Regions from separate parts of the Homo sapiens genome. Here region 1 is linked to region 2. Evidence: fine-mapped expression QTL. Tissue or cell type: whole blood. Region 2 holds a variant in brackets; the other region holds the start of a gene. All regions are shown on one strand. Distances are from middle to middle.

Region 1 (8,100 bases), 77 kb after region 2:
TTCTCCAGCCTCAGACTCCCAAGTAGCTGGGATTACAGGGATGCACCACTACACCTGGCTAATTTTGTATTTTTAGTAGAGATGGGGTTTCTCCATGTTGGTCAGGCTGGTCTCGAACTCCCGACCTCAGGTGATCCACCCGCCTCGGCTTCCTAAAGTGCTGGGATTACAGGCGTGAGCCACCGTGCCCAGCCAACAGATATTTTTAAGAGATCACTTTGTCTGCTGGGTGGAGAATCGTTAGTAGTGGGTCAAAAGGTGAAGGCAGGAGACAGAAGTGTGGGCACAGGTGAAATGCAGAGGCCTGGGAGGGTGGAGGGGCCCCAGAGGAGCCGTCTCAGGGCCTGCTGCTGTGCCTTCCTAGGAGCCAGCAGGGGCTCCAGGCCCCTTAGCCCCACCTGGAGTGTGCAACTCATCACCCAGCTTCAGACAGGTTTCTTATAAGAACCAAGGAGGTCCAGTGCCTGTGTCTCTAAGAATGCTTCTTCTGGGGGAATATCCCGTCTCTCTCAGGCACTTTGCATCTTCTGAGTCTTCTGGCCCTCACACCCTCCCACCCTCCCACCCCGTTCCTGGCACTCAAAGGCACGTGGCGCTGCTCCTGTGAACAGATGTGCCCATGTCCTTGAGGCTGACGTGTGCCTGTGTGCACTGACCCACGCAGATCACCAAGGCGCCAGGGCAGCTTCCAGAGCCACGACACCAGGGTTCAAATCCCAGCCCAACCTCTTTCTGGCTGGGTGATCTTGTACAAGTCCTGAACCTCTCTGCACCTCAGTTTCCTCATTCGTACCACAGGGGACCGGCACCAGCACACAGCATTACCCCAGGATTGGACGAATTGTCACATCTGCAAGTCTCCACTGGTGTTATTACGTTATCAGGCACAAACCCCCTCCAGACACCTGAGCCTCCCCCACAGGCTCCCAGTGAGGAGCCATCACATGCCCAGGCCAGCCGAGGGGCCCTCAGGCATGGGGATCTGGGCAATGGCAGCAAGCTGGGCGGGGGGTGCAGCCAGGATGACAGCAGATCTGCAGGGCGGGGTCCTCGCCCCGGGCCACCTGGCTGGGGCCGAAGGTCACAGCTGCGTCTAACTGGGCCTTGAGCAGCTGAAGCTGTTTCAGGGCTTGCAGCACCTCTGGGGTGGCCCCGGCCACACCCCCCAGCAGGTTGTAGTTCTCACCAGGGTCCTTGGACAGGTCATAGAGCAGCGGGGGCTCATGAGCAGTCAGAGAGCTGGAGGCGTGGCAGGCAGGGTCTGCAGTGGTATCACTGTGGGCAGAGCCTGGGGAGGGGGCCAATTCTGTGCACAGGGCAAGGGCGAGAGGAGGGGCCAGGGATCTAGGGCTCCGGGGAGGGGTCAGCAGGTCGGGGGGAGGGATCCACGGGGAGGGGTTACCCTGGGTGAAGAAGTGAGCCTTGTACTTTCCAGTCCGCACAGCAAAAACCCCACGGACCTCGTCTGGGTAGGACGGGTAGAAGAAGAGAGACTGCCGAGGGCTCTGGGGGCAGAGTCAGGGGTCACGGGGCGGGGCAGGCCCCAAGCACTGCACATACCTGGGGCTGCCAGCCCTGGTGGGAGGCCCTGGACGTGCACCGCTTCTTGCCCACCCAGGAACCTGAGAGGTGGCGCCACTTGGATGCCACTCAGTGCAGGAGGCACTGAGGCACAGACTCTCAGGCACTGCCCACACTCACCCCAGGGGAAGGCCAGGACAGGGGCCAAGGATCTGGGATCAGGGGTCACCGGCCCTACCTTGCCTGTGCCCAGCAGCAGGGGGCTGAGGTCAAAGCCATCCAAGGTGACATTGGGCAGTGGGGCCCCAGCCAGGGCTGCCAGGGTAGGCAGCAGGTCCAGGGAGCTGGCCAGCTCGTGGGTCACGCCTGGGGGCAGGAGGCTGGTCAGTCACTCAGTTCGCCATCAAGGTTGGGGTGGTGGGGCCAGGGTTCCAAGGAGAGGGCCTGCGGACTGACCGGGAGCGATATGACCTGGCCAGAAGGCCAAGGCAGGCTCTCGGACACCGCCCTCGTAGGTCGTTCCCTTTCCACACCGCAAGAGACCGGAGCAGCCGCCTCGGGACATACGCATGGTCTCAGGTCTGGGACACAGGAGGCGCTCATGAGCCATGGAGCCACAGCCTCTGAGCCACCGAGGGTGACCAGTGGCCCCACACCTCTAAGTCACAAAGCTTGCCCGGAGGTGCCCAGCATGAGCCCGGCACCTCCCAGGCCTACCAAGACCAGCTCTCTGTGCACTGTGTCTCCTGACTACACCTTGGGCCCCTGCAACGTGGCCAGCATCTCCTGGCACCCCCTCACCCACTATGTTCTTGGCAAGCAGCTGAACTGCAAGGCCTCCAGGGCCCTGGCCCGTGACAGGGCCGGAGCACCCAGCTGCCCTGCTGGCATACCCATTGTCTGCAGTGAAGATGACCAGCGTCTCTTCAAGCAGCCCCAGGTCCCCTATGGCTGTCATCAGGGTCCCCACAGCTGCATCCAGCTCCATCAGGGAGTCCCCAAATGGCCCGCGGCCTGAACGCTCTGCAAAGCTCTGCCCACTGAACTGAGGGTAGTGGGTGTGCTGGGGGCAAAGACTGGAGTTAGCACTGGGTAGGGGTCACGGGCAGCCAGGGGGTTGGGCCAAGATCACTTACGTGAGAGGCATAGTACAGGAAGAAGGGGCGATCCTGGCGCTGGGCGTCGGCCATGAGGTCATGGGCGAAAGCCATGTAGCGGGCCTCTAGTCCGGGCAGCCAGGGGGGCTGCGCCTCCACGGACAGGTTGGCCAACAGTGGGATGGGGACCAGGCCCTGGTCACAGCCACCGTCGCAAGGAGTGGCCGGCGGGAAGCAGGTCAGGTTCTGGCAGGGGCCCTGAGGCGGGCAGCTGCCGTGAGGGCTGGGCTGGCAGGTGGGGCTGCGGGAGCATCAAGGGCTGGGGGACTTTGGGAGGTGGGAGGGTGGCTGAGGGCCCGGGTGGTTCCTACCTGGTCGTGGGAGTACGGGATGCCTAGAAATCGATGGAAGCCCTGATGGGGGGGCAGGAAGGCCCCCTCAGGCCCCACCCCAAGGTGCCACTTGCCGGCCATTCCTGTGAGGTAGCCTCGGGCAGCCAGGACTTCGGCCACGGTCACCTCCTCCAGGGGCAGGCCCCCCCGGGAGCTGGGCACCAGGACGCCAGGGTACATGCCCATCCGAACCGGGAGCCGGCCGGTCAGGAGGGCGGCCCTGCGGGACAAGTCACAGAGTCCCTGAGACAGACAGAAATGTGGCCTTCCCTAGAGAGAGAGACAGACGTTTTTCCCGCCCCCCTGCAATCCATTGGGAGGAAAGGGATGGAGGGTCGGGGCGGGGAAGAGGCGCGGCCCCCTCTTTACCTAGAGGGTGTGCACAGAGACACAGGCACGTAGAAGTCTGTGAACCGCAGCCCTCCCGCCGCCAGCTGGTCCAGGTTGGGAGTGGTAGAGCTGGGGTGCCCATAGCAGCCCAGGTCCCCATAGCCGAGGTCGTCGGCAAAGATCAGCACGATGTTGGGCGGACGGGCAACGGCCAGGCCAGCAGCCAGGGCCAGGAGGAGGGACCGCGGTGCCCCCATGGACATGGGACCGAGGGGTCTGTCCCAAGAGAGGGAGGGCTACTTGGCTCCAGCAGGCTCTTTCCGATACCGCAGACCCAGGCGCCGCCCTTCCCTGAGACCCCGGACCCAAATACTCCCCGACCCTGACGGCCGCCTCCTGAAGCTCCAGAGGGCCGGGGCCCGACAGTACCGGGAGACCGCGGGCTGGGACGGAACTCCTCCAGGACCAGGGCACCTTCAGATTCTCGAGCGGAGATCTGATCCTCCTCGCCTAGCGGTCCGGGCTCAGGGTCGGGGGCGTAAGTCACTTGGCGCTGACCAGCGGAGTCGGGCCGGGGGGAAGGCGCTAGAGGGAGCCCAGGAGGAGCCGGTACCGGGCTGCGGGCGCTTCCGCCTCGGCCCCGCCCCGTGACCTGTGACCCTTGCGGGGCGGGGCCGGGGGCGGGGCCGGGGGCGGGGCCGGGGGCGGGCCGGGGCGAGGGGCGTTGCTGCGCGTGCTCGCTCCGAGGCCGCCGTGTGCGCCTGAGGCTGTTGGCTGCGGTCTTGAAACGGGCTCTGGGAGCTTCCTCTGCGCGGTCGGCCCTGGCTGAGGCGTCCCGGGCTGCGCGCGGGGCTCGGCGCTGCGCAGTGTCCGGTGTCCTCTCGGTCCGGAGCTTCTCCAGAGGAGGAGCGGCTCGTGCGCCCCCAGACCTCCGGTACTGGGAGACTCGGGCCCTCCTGTAAGAGACCTGAGCGCGGAGCGTTATGGGCACCCGGTGAATGAGCAAATGGCAGGGAAAACCGTGCAGCCCCATGGACTGCGGGCTCTTCCTTCACGACTAGCAAAAGCTTTGACACCCTTTCTCCTGCGTACGCGTGTCTGTGTGCGTGTAAGCTGTGGCTGGGTGCGGGGGGCTGTGTACGTGTCTGTGTGTGGTGTGTGTGGAGTGTTTGAGGCAGGTGTGTGGTGTTTCAGGTGTGTGTGCATGTGTGGTGTTTGAGGTGTGTGTGTGTGTTTTTGTAGTGTTTGAGGGATATGTGTGTGTGGTGTTTGAGGTGGGTGTGTGGTGTTTGAGGGGTGTGTGTGTGTGGTTGAGGGGTGTGTTTGGTGTTTGAGGGGTGTGTGTGGTTGAGGTGTATGGTGGTTGAGGTGTGTGTAGTGTTTGAGGCACGTATGTGTGTGGTGTTGGGTGTGTGTGGTGTTAGAGGTGTGGCGTATGTGTGTTTGCGGTGGTTGAGGTGTGTGTGTGTGTCTGGTGTTTAGGGTGTGTCTGTTGTGTGCGTGTGGTGGTGGAGGCGTGGTGTGGTGTGGAATGTGTGTCTGGGGTCCAGTCTGGCCTGTTGCAGGGTTACGCTGCTGGGGAAAAACTCATCTGAGGACAACGTGATTGGGTCCTCGCTCCCTCGTTGGGCAGCCTTGGACTTAACCTTTTTGATCTTGAAGGAAAACACAATATGTCACCTCCAAATATATTTCCTTGACACGGTTCAAGACAGTTACTCAGAAGGACTGGAAATAGAAGAATAGCTGAAAAGCTGTCTTTTGTGGGGGAGATTTGCATCTGTGGAGAGAATCTACACTGATGCGGCCAGGCCTCCTCTGAGGCCCTCCTTGCCTGATCTGGGAAGAGTAACAGTCTGACGCCTTTAAAGGCCTGAAGGGAACATTCACCATCTGTTCTCTCTCAGGGCTGCTACCTGTGAGGTTTCATCTGTAGAACAAGGCCACCTTTGCTAGCCAGGCCTCCTCTGCTCTCCCTCCTGTAACCGGTCTTGCCACTGGTCACCTGATTTTCCACCATAAACTGTGGCCATACTTTGAGCCCATGTTCTTTCTGTAACCTCAAGATGGTATATAAGCTTCCGAACCCCATTGGGAGGTTGGGGTCATCACTCTGGTTCTCCCTGTGTGCATGAATAAATCTGTATGCCTTTTTTCTTACTAACCTGGCTTTTGTCAGTTGATTTTCTGTGAACTCAGAATGCAGAAAAGTTTTTCTCTAGGCTCCTACAGTTTTGGTGCAGTCGGTAGGATAACTAAAGTCACTCTCCTGGGAGCCTCCGTCAGGGGAACCCAGGAGCCGACAAGCTGGCAGAAAGAAGGGTAAGAAGGTCTTAGCAGCCAGGCTCCCGGCCTCTCTGGAATCTTGTCAAGCCGACGGTAAAAATGTCTGTTTACCTTGTTTTCCTCTTCAAAGTTTTAATGAGAGAAATGTATTTATGTGATTAGTTTTGTATTCATATTGTTTGATTGCTTTTTTTCCCCAGAAATAGTCGTCTTTCATTCTTGTCTTTCTGTGTTTTTCTGTCATAAAGAGGGTAGAACACAGGCCTAAAACCCCTGTAAACCCCGTCTTGGGGCCGTCCTGCAGGCTAGTCAGTTTTGCAGCTCTGATCGGATGCGTCTAGTTAGACAGACTTTGCTGTGGGTCCCTGAACTGAAAACTGGATGAGATTCTCCTCTCTTTTGATGTCCTTGAAAGCTTGAGTTGTGAGCGAGTGGGAATGATGCAGGCCAGGCAGACCCCAGAGTGGAGCTTAGCCAGTGAGGGTTTTGGCTTTGCCCAGGAAAGAATTCAAAGACAAGCCAGAGGTAGAAGAAAACAGCTTTATTGAACAGGTGGCGTTAGAGCTCTGTGACTGCTCCTGCAGAGCAGGGCCACCCCGTAGGCTGAGAGTAGCAGCTCAGGGCAGTTTTGCAGTCACATTTATACGCACTTTTGATTGCATGTAGATTAAAGGATGGTTTATGCAGAAGTTTCTAGGGAAGGAGTAGTCATCATTGGGTCATTGCCATGGAAAGGGGTGGCAACTCCTGGGTGTTGCCATGGCAATGGTAAACTGACATGGCACAGTGGCGGGCATATCTGACTGAAAGCTGCTATTGCCCCAACCCTGTTTTAGCCAATCCTCAACTGGGTCAACTAAGTCCCACCTCCTACCTCAGGAGCACTCTCTTGGCCTCTGCCAATCCGAGGTAGTGACTCGCAGGTCACATTTTGTGGTCAGTCTGAAAATGGTTGGGAACCCAAGACATTTAATATTTTAAGCAGCACCGTTTTTGTTCTGAATGTGTCAAGCTTTTAGTTTGTCTTAAGAAGTCCCTGCCAGGCGAGCTGTCAGAGCCCCGGCACTGGGAGTGGTGGTCAACTTGCGGGTTGGTAAAAAGAGTTTACCGACAATAGGTTTGAAAAAGGAAAGTTTGGCCGGGCATAGTGGCTCATGCTTGTACTCTCAGCACTTTGGAAGTCCAAGGTGGGTGGATCACCTGAGGTCAGGAGTTTGAGACCAGCCTGGCCAACATGGAGAAACCCTGTCTCTACTGAAAGTATAAAACTTAGCCAGGTGTGGTGGTGCGTGGCTGTAATCCCAGCTACTTGGAAGGCTGAGGCAGGAGAATTGCTTGAACCTGGGAGGCGGAGGTTGCAGTGAGCTGAGACAGAGCAAGACTGTCTCAAAAAAAAAAAGAAAAAAGAAAGTTTGCCGGGCACGGTGGCTCACGCCTGTAATCCCAGCACTTTGGGATGCTGAGGCAGGTGGATCACCTGAGGGCAGGAGTTCAAGACCAGCCTGGCCAACATGATGAAACCCCATCTCTACTAAAAATACAAAAAATTAGCTGGGCATGGTGTCGGGAGCCTGTATTCCCAGCTACTTGGGAGGCTGAGGCAGGAGAATCGCTTGAACCTGGGAGATGGAGGTTGTGGTGAGCTGAGATCATACCATTGCACTCCAGCCTGGGCAACAAGAGTGAAACTCCATCTCAAAAAAAAAAAAAAGAAAAAAAAAGAAAAGAAAGAAAGTTTATTAGAATGCTGCAGAAGAGTGCAATGAGGTGCCTCAGCAAGAGGACTGAGTACGCCGGGTGGATTTCTCCTTAAGGGCATTTATAGGCCTTAAAGTGGAGGCTTAACAGTAATTTGGACCATATTAGCCACGTAAGTCATGATAAATGATTACATTTATAGTAATTTTGGTGCCTTAATGTCAGCGACGGTTGTACAGTGAGTTTCGTCATGGTATTCTGGAGACACATAGAAATTATAGTTACTTACACGTTTTTTGGGGGAAGAAATCTGGAACCAGATGCCTGCTTTAGATAATAGGGAGGTTTAGTTACTTTTGATTTTCCCCAGATAAGGAGTTTTGCCTCGGAGGGCCTGTTTGATGTTTGATGGTCGCCAGGTGGTTTTTGCTCTCCTCAGGCCCATCCATAAGGGGCTTTTGTCATCCCAATGTTTGTTGCCTGGTCAGTCCTCAGAAAGCCCAATCCCAACAGGCCTACCCTGTGTTACAGGTTAATGGGTCTGTGACTGGCAGCCCCTGACAGATTGTGTGTTACTGGAGGCACTGTATGTACAAACACGTTCCTTAACTGTCTCTGGGAACAAGAGTCTTTTGCTGTCTTTGCCTATTCCTGGGAGTGAATTTTGGGGGCATCATTGGAACCTCCTCTTCTATGCCCTCTCTAAACCTGGAAAATAATCTTTTGGGCTTTCCATGAAGGGGCTTCTTGGATTGAGTTGCTATTGGAATAAATAC
Region 2 (8,100 bases):
CCTGGGCAGGAGCGAAGCAGGGGGGATGTCCGCCCCCCTCCTGATCCACTTCACTCCTCGGAGCCCTGGCAGCGAAGCGGAGGCGGAGACAGGTGGTGTCAGGGCGTCCTCTCGCCAGGCCGCAGGCCCCGCGGGGCAACAGGACACTGGCCCCTGGCAGGCGGGCGCGGGGCCCTCGGGCTCGATGGGGAGAGGCCGGGGCCGGCGGCGGCGGATGGACGCTGGCTCGGGAGACAGAGCCCGCCGCCCCCGGAAACTGGACCCGCTCCGCCTGGGCGCCGCGGGGAGCGTGTGGGACGCGGTGGACGGGGCCGCCGCCCTGGACGCCCACGCGCGCGGCCTCCCCACAGGACCCCCACTCGCCCAGGAGCCCGCACTCCCGGCGCTGCCCGCTCCCCGCGCCCTGCAGCCTGGGTCTCAGACGGAAGGCTCTGGGGCCAAGGGTGGCTGGAGCAGGGAGGCCTCGGGGGTCCCTGCCCCCGGAGGAGGCTGGCCCTGGGTCAGCAGGGAGGTCCCGGGCACCCGGAGCTTTGGCCCAGCCCCAGACTCCACGCGCCCCTGGCTAGAGAGTCCGCCTCAAGGTCGCCCACTCTCGTCCCAAGGGCCGGGTGCCACAGGGGCCTACGATGCCGGCGAGGCCGGGGCTGACAGCTCCCGAGATAACAGTCCTGCCGCTGACCTGGGGCCCACCCGGCCCCCGGAGCAAGCAAAGCCGGCTGCAGCCGGCCACAGCCGCGCGCCCTCCCGGAGCCGTGAGCCTCGCCCGCGCTCCGCCTCCCCGCCCGCAGCTCCCGGCCCGGGGTTCCCACCTGAAGCCCTGACTCTCCCCTCTCCTTCAGACTTTTTGCCCCTGGAGGTTACCCAGGATCCTTCCGTGGGCGAAAATCTCAGAGCGGCGCCAGCCCCAAGTTCAGCCTCAGCCCAAGTCTTAACTTCAGCTCCAGCCTCAGTCCTAGCCCCAGCCCTGGCTTCATCCCCCAGCTCAGCACCAACCTCAGCCACCACCTCAACCTCATCCCCCACCTCAGCCCCAGCCCCAGCTCCAACCTCAGCTCCAACTTCAACCCCAGCCCCAGCCCCAAGTCCAGCTGCAGCCGCAACTCCAGCCCCAGCCCCAGTCCCAGTCCCAACCCTCACACCCCCATCCCCAGCCCTAACCCCAGTCCCAACCCCAGCCCTAAGCCCAGCTCCAACTCCAGCCCTAACCCCAGCCGCATCCCCAGCCCTAACCCCAGTCCCAACCCCAGCCCTAAGCCCAGCTCCAACTCCAGCCCCAACCCCAGCCGCATCCCCTGCCCCAGCCCCCACCTCAGCCCCAACCCCAACCCCAGCCGCATCCCCTGCCCCAGCTGACGGGTCAAAGCCTCAGGAGAGTGTGGCTCTCCCCAGGCGCTACCAGGAGGGGCAGGTCTCAGCCAGCTGGGGAAACCTTATTGCCATGGTTCTTAGAAGCCACCCCTTCCCCAGGCAAGACAGGCCCCAAGGGAGTGTCCCGAGGGCGGTTCCCGGGAGCCCCGTGGGTCCCAGCACTTCCACACACTCTGAGGACAGACACGGCCCCTCTTCTTCAGTGGGGACAGTCATAGGGACAGGTACAGGGGGCCTGGTTGAGGCTGGAGGTCAGCCACAGCCAAGAAGCTCCGAGACCAACGGATCGCCCAGCCCAGACCCTCCCCCAGGCCTAAGAGGAGAGGGAACCAGGGAGAAAAGTCTAGACCCGCTGCCCCAAGCCGCGATGCCCAGGGGCCCCGCACAGCCCCCCGCGCAGAGGCCGCCTGGCCCCGCGGCCTCCTCCTCTGCGAGGCGCTCACAGCCGGTACCCCAGCTACGGAAACGCAGCAGGTGCGAAATCGCCCCGAGCTCGGAGCAGGAGGTCAGGCCGGCCGCCTCGGGGGACCCTCAAGGGGAGGCGCCGGGGGAGGGGGGCAGCCCTGCCGGCCGCAGCGGGGCGCTCACGGAAAAGCAGGAGGAGGCCCGGAAGCTCATGGTGTTTCTGCAGAGGCCCGGGGGTTGGGGGGTGGTGGAGGGGCCCCGGAAGCCCAGCTCCCGGGCCCTGGAGCCCGCCACGGCGGCAGCCCTGCGGCGGCGGCTGGACCTGGGCAGTTGCCTGGACGTGCTGGCCTTTGCCCAGCAGCACGGAGAGCCCGGCCTGGCGCAGGAGACCTACGCGCTGATGAGCGACAACCTGCTGCGAGTGCTGGGAGACCCGTGCCTCTACCGCCGGCTGAGCGCGGCCGACCGCGAGCGCATCCTCAGCCTGCGGACCGGCCGGGGCCGGGCGGTGCTGGGCGTCCTCGTACTGCCCAGCCTCTACCAGGGGGGCCGCTCAGGGCTCCCCAGGGGCCCTCGTGGCGAGGAGCCTCCTGCGGCGGCCCCTGTGTCCCTGCCTCTACCTGCGCACCTGCATGTGTTCAACCCCCGGGAGAACACCTGGCGGCCCCTGACCCAGGTGCCCGAGGAGGCCCCGCTTCGGGGCTGCGGTCTCTGCACCATGCACAACTACCTGTTTCTGGCGGGGGGCATCCGTGGCTCCGGTGCCAAGGCCGTCTGCTCCAACGAGGTCTTCTGCTACAACCCTCTGACCAACATCTGGAGCCAGGTTCGGCCCATGCAGCAGGCCCGAGCCCAGCTCAAGCTGGTGGCCCTGGACGGGCTGCTCTATGCCATCGGTGGCGAATGCCTGTACAGCATGGAGTGCTACGACCCGCGAACAGACGCCTGGACCCCACGCGCGCCACTCCCCGCAGGCACCTTCCCTGTGGCCCACGAGGCTGTGGCCTGCCGTGGGGACATCTACGTCACCGGGGGTCACCTCTTCTACCGCCTGCTCAGGTACAGCCCCGTGAAGGATGCTTGGGACGAGTGCCCATACAGTGCCAGCCACCGGCGTTCCAGCGACATCGTGGCACTGGGGGGCTTCCTGTACCGCTTCGACCTGCTGCGGGGCGTGGGCGCCGCCGTGATGCGCTACAACACAGTGACCGGCTCCTGGAGCAGGGCTGCCTCCCTGCCCCTGCCCGCCCCCGCCCCACTGCACTGCACCACCCTGGGCAACACCATTTACTGCCTCAACCCCCAGGTCACTGCCACCTTCACGGTCTCTGGGGGGACTGCCCAGTTCCAGGCCAAGGAGCTGCAGCCCTTCCCCTTGGGGAGCACCGGGGTCCTCAGTCCATTCATCCTGACTCTGCCCCCTGAGGACCGGCTGCAGACCTCACTCTGAGTGGCAGGCAGAGAACCAAAGCTGCTTCGCTGCTCTCCAGGGAGACCCTCCTGGGATGGGCCTGAGAGGCCGGGGCTCAGGGAAGGGGCTGGGATCGGAACTTCCTGCTCTTGTTTCTGGACAACTTTCCCCTTCTGCTTTAAAGGTTGTCGATTATTTTGAAGCCCAGACTCCCTCAGCCTCTTTCTGCCCCTCACTCCACACCCAGACTGTTTCCTGACTCAATTCCGTACCTACTTACAGACCCTCTCAGCTTGCTGACACCCCCCTGTCTGTGGGACTCCCTATTCCCTAGAGCCAGGGACTGATGCGTCTCCACAGACAAGGACTTGGCTCGCTGGAGCTCTGCTGAGCCGAGAGAGGAGGGGGTAGAAAACATTCACACTTCCTATGCTCTGTCAGCAGGACAGGGAGCAAAAACGTCCCCAGGCAACGCCCTCGCCTCTGGGACTTTCTGCCTGTCCTAAGGCCTCCCCAGGTACCAACCCCGTAGCTATCTGGGTCTGTTTGGCACTGTGGATTCTCAAGGGCCTAGAACCCTTGCCTCTGAAACTGGTCCGCTGGTGCAGCCCTGCTGTCTGCAGCTCCTGCCCATACCCCCAGCCCACACCAGGCCAGGCCCACTCCGGGCTCACCACCCTCTGCAGCCTTGTGGGGCTCTCCCAGCCCCTCCAGAAGCCCACCCCACTTCTCGCCAACCCCCGATCTCTAAATGAGGCCTGAGCGTCACCCTAGTTCTGCCCCTTTTTAGCTGTGTAGACTTGGACGAGACATTTGACTTCCCTTTCTCCTTGTCTATAAAATGTGGACAGTGGACGTCTGTCACCCAAGAGAGTTGTGGGAGACAAGATCACAGCTATGAGCACCTCGCACGGTGTCCAGGATGCACAGCACAATCCATGATGCGTTTTCTCCCCTTACGCACTTTGAAACCCATGCTAGAAAAGTGAATACATCTGACTGTGCTCCACTCCAACCTCCAGCCTGGATGTCCCTGTCTGGGCCCTTTTTCTGTTTTTTATTCTATGTTCAGCACCACTGGCACCAAATACATTTTAATTCACCGAAAGCACCTGCAGCTTGCACTTGTTGTGTTTTGTTCACAAGGTTTGATATGCAGCTGGGTGGATCATGGCACAGGAGAGAAGAGGTCCTCGGGCTGTGCTTAAAAATAAGTTTATTAAGAAACAAGTACAGTGCATACAGCTATTCATGTGGGTGCCAGCTCCATCCCCCAGTGACCTCTTCATACGGGCAGAGGGTGGCATGGCAGCTGTGGTGGGCCAGTGGGGCCTACAGCCTTTGCTTGGTCTCATGCAGCAGCTCTTGCCAGTTCTTCTCCATCTCCTCCTTGCAGTTGA[C/T]GAAGGCATCCTCCAGCCGACGCATGGACTCGGCCAGCGTAGGGTTGGTGCGCATCACCACCATGTCATAGGCCATCCAGGTCGCCTGCACTGCAACAAGCAGACAGGACTGGTCAGGCCACAGGGAGGGGCTGCAGCTCTGGGGTGCCCCAGAAGGGTCAGATGCCTCCAGCTGGGCTCAGCATCTGGAGGCCCAGATCCTGCTGAGGCACCCAATTACTCTAGGGAGAGACAGCTGGTAGGCTACTTGTTACAGGCTCATAAAAACTCCCTACAAACATCCATAGTGACGCTTCCTAGTCTCATGCAAGGCATAACTTCTGGATACACCAGACATGATGTAAAAAACTAGAGGCTGGTCTGATACGAAATGTGAGGAGAATTAGAGCAAACCGCAGCTCCTTACCTACAAGCAGTTCACAGCCAATGGCTGCAGGTGACCCCTAAGGAGTCATCCACCCAAGCTCACACACTCAGGTAGAGTTGATTGTTTCCAGTCCTGCAAGACCCAAACCTCATGTCACCTTATGTTCAGTGGCCTGGGATGCCTGCCCACCTCCACCTGGGCACCTCTATGCTTTCGTTGAGGCCCAGGCCTGGGGCTTCTCCTCTTGGGAAGGTGTCCTTGACCATCTACCAATGCACTGATGGGCTCTCTTGCTCTTTCCCTCTGACAGCAACTCGAAGGTAGCATTCCCTGGGCCTATAGGTGAACACATGCTTCTTGTGTGAACTCAAAGAAGTGTGTGCAGAAATCCCACCTCCAACTTTTTCTCTGCATAGTCCACCGGCTGGTGTGGTTCAGCCCTCTGCAACTATACAGAACAAAGGTCATCTCCCCTCTGCATGACAACCAACTGTACATAGCAAACACATCCCCTTAAAATTCCTCTTTGTGGAATCCTCACAAGCATCCCAGATCGTTCCGGTGCAGGGAGGCCGCAGACTACCTGGACAGCAGGTGCAGCAGGGACCTGGGGCCAGAGCAGAGTACGCCTCCCAGCTCCCCACCTGACGACTCTGTGACCTGGAACAAGTGTCTGCAATGTATCAATCTCGGCCGGGTGCGGTGGCTCACGCCTGTAATCCCAGCACTTTGGGAGGCCAAGGGGGGTAGATCACGAGATCAAGAGATTGAGACCATCCTGGCCAACATGGCCAGTGTTCCTGGCCCATCTCTACTAAAAATATAAAAATTAGCCGGGTGTGGTGGTGGGTGCCTGTAGTCCCAGCTACTAGAGAGGCTGAGGCAGGAGAATCGCTTGAACCCAGAAGGTGGAGGTTATATATACATAAATCTCAGTCTCCTCATCTTTGGAGACCCTACCAATCTCATGGCTTACTGTGAGAATTAAATGGGTGATATATGTAAACTGCCTGGCACACATGTTATGGACTGAATGTGTCCCTCCCACATTCACCTGTTGAAATCCTAACCCCCGACGTGATGGTATTAGGAGGTCGGGTCTTTTGGAGATGATTAGGTCCTAAGGGTAGACCCTCCTGAATGGGATTAGCACCCCTTAAAGAAGAGACACAAGAGCTCACTCTCACTCTATGCAAGGATATGTGAGGCTCTATGTGAGGATACAAGAAGGTGGCTGGCCGGGCAAGGTGGCTGGTACCTATAATCCCAGCACTTTGGGAGGCTGAGGTGGGTGGATCACTTGAGCTCAGAAGTTTGAGATCAGACTGGGCAACATGTTGAAACCCTGTCTTTACAGAAAATACAAAATTTAGCTGGGCATGGTGGTGTGCACCTGTAGTTGCAACTACTCAGGAGGCTGAGATGAAAAAAAGGATCCCTTGAGCCTGGGAGGTGGAGGTTGCAGTGAGCCAAGATTGCACTACTGCACTCCAGTTTGGGTGACAGAGTATGACCCTGTCTCAAAATAAATAAATAAATAAATAAAATCCCAAAGTGCTGGGATTACAGGCCACTGCGCCCAGCCATAACGTTTTTTTGAGTGCAAATTAAATCATTGTTTCTTGGCTACAATAATCCTCTAGAGAGGACCAGATTGTAACTTTTCCTCATATTTTTCGTTGGTGCCCTAATGGAATAGGTTCCTTTTTCTGTTCTAATGCACAAATTACTCTTATAATTGTCAAACTTATCTCCCCTCATTTTGCTTCCAAGGAAACTAAAATCATGGTATTCTGCAGATGACCAAAGATATGAATCTCCCTCATTTGGCATCGCACTGGGCCCGGATCTGTTACACTGCAAATGCCCTGCTGCTAAAACGATACAAACACCCTCCCTCTATGCCCAGGGACTATCACAGAAGAGAGAGTCTCGCTCCGTCACCCAGGCTGCAGTGCAATGGTATGATCTCGGCTCACTGCAAGTTCCGTCTCCTGGGTTCAAGTGATTCTCCTGCCTCAGCCTCCTGAGTAGCTGGGATTCCAGGCATCCACCAACACGCCCAGCTAATTTTTGTATTTTTATTAGAGATGGAGTTTCACCATATTGCCCAGGCTGGTCTCAAACTCCTGACCTTGTGATCCTCCTGCCTCGGCTTCCCAAAGTGCTGGGTTTACAGGTGTGAGCCACCGTGCCCAGCCTGTAGCAGATTTATATAAAAATGCAATATGCGGCTGGGTGCGGTGGCTCATTCCTGTAATCCCAGCACTTCGGGAGGCCAAGGCAGGCAGATTATGAGGTCAAGAGATTGAGACCATCCTGGCTAACACGGGGAAACTCCATCTCTACTAAAAATACAAAAAAAATTAGCCATGCATGGTGGCGGGCACCTGTAGTCCCAGCTACTCGGGAGGCTGAGGCAGGAGAATGGCGTGAACCCGGGAGGCAGAGCTTGCAGTGAGCCGAGATTGTGCCACTGCACTCCAGCCTGGGCAACAGAGCGCGACTCTGTCTCAAAAAAAAAAAAAAAGCAATACGCAGCGTAGGTCATTTGGCATGCCAGATGGGTTAGGATTAAATGTTAAAAAGGAATACGGAGAAAAGTAGAAGAAAATACAACTAAATATTTCACTGATCTCAGATTGAGGAAAGACTTTCTAGGTGTCAAAATAATGGCAATAAATCAGAAAGGAAAATATTGATAGATTTTTCACTACATAAAACTGTTTGCTGGCTGGGCGTGGTGGCTCACGCGTGTAATCCCAGCACTTCAGGAGGCCAAGGCAGGTGGATCACCTGAGGTTAGGAGTTTGAGACCAGCCTGGCCAAAATGGTGAAACTTCGTCTCTACTAAAAATACAAAAATTAGCTGGGCATGGTGGCAGGCGCCTGTAATCCCACCTACCCAGGAGGCTGAGGCAGGGGAATCACTTGAACCCGAGAGGCGGAGGTTGCAGTGAGCTGAGATCACATCATTGCATTCAAGCCTGGACGACAGAGCAAGACTCCGTCTCAAAAAAAAAAAAAAAAAAAGGCCAGGCGCGGTGGCTCACACCTGTAATCCCAGGACTTTGGGAGGCTGAGGCGGGCAGATCACAAGGTCAGGAGATCAAGACTATCCTGGCCAACATGGTGAAACCCTGTCTCTA

What was found. PIP is the estimated chance that this variant, and not a neighbour inherited with it, causes the effect.
Region 1: it holds the start of ARSA, and the variant in region 2 is fine-mapped to the expression of ARSA in whole blood (TOPMed, PIP above 0.99).

What each region holds. Positions count from the first base shown.
Region 1 is chr22:50,624,177-50,632,276 of GRCh38, forward strand. ARSA (arylsulfatase A) reads right to left here and starts at 3,976. Exons shown (of 8, transcript NM_000487.6): 1 at 3,380-3,976; 2 at 2,990-3,230; 3 at 2,658-2,876; 4 at 2,415-2,584; 5 at 1,978-2,102; 6 at 1,760-1,887; 7 at 1,403-1,505; 8 at 1-1,288. The coding sequence starts at 3,603. The coding sequence ends at 969. LOC124905149 (a long non-coding RNA gene) reads left to right here and starts at 7,318. Exons shown (of 2, transcript XR_007068161.1): 1 at 7,318-8,100. RefSeq lists an enhancer at 2,154-2,936 and a silencer at 3,871-4,060.
Region 2 is chr22:50,546,729-50,554,828 of GRCh38, forward strand. It overlaps KLHDC7B (kelch domain containing 7B), which reads left to right. Exons shown (of 1, transcript NM_138433.5): 1 at 1-4,295. The coding sequence ends at 3,223. SYCE3 (synaptonemal complex central element protein 3) reads right to left here. Exons shown (of 3, transcript NM_001123225.3): 3 at 4,384-4,674. The coding sequence ends at 4,517. KLHDC7B-DT (KLHDC7B divergent transcript) reads right to left here and starts at 2,219. Exons shown (of 4, transcript NR_199716.1): 1 at 2,168-2,219. RefSeq lists silencers at 1,697-2,126, 2,207-2,366. The variant C/T (reference allele first, on the strand shown) is at 4,585.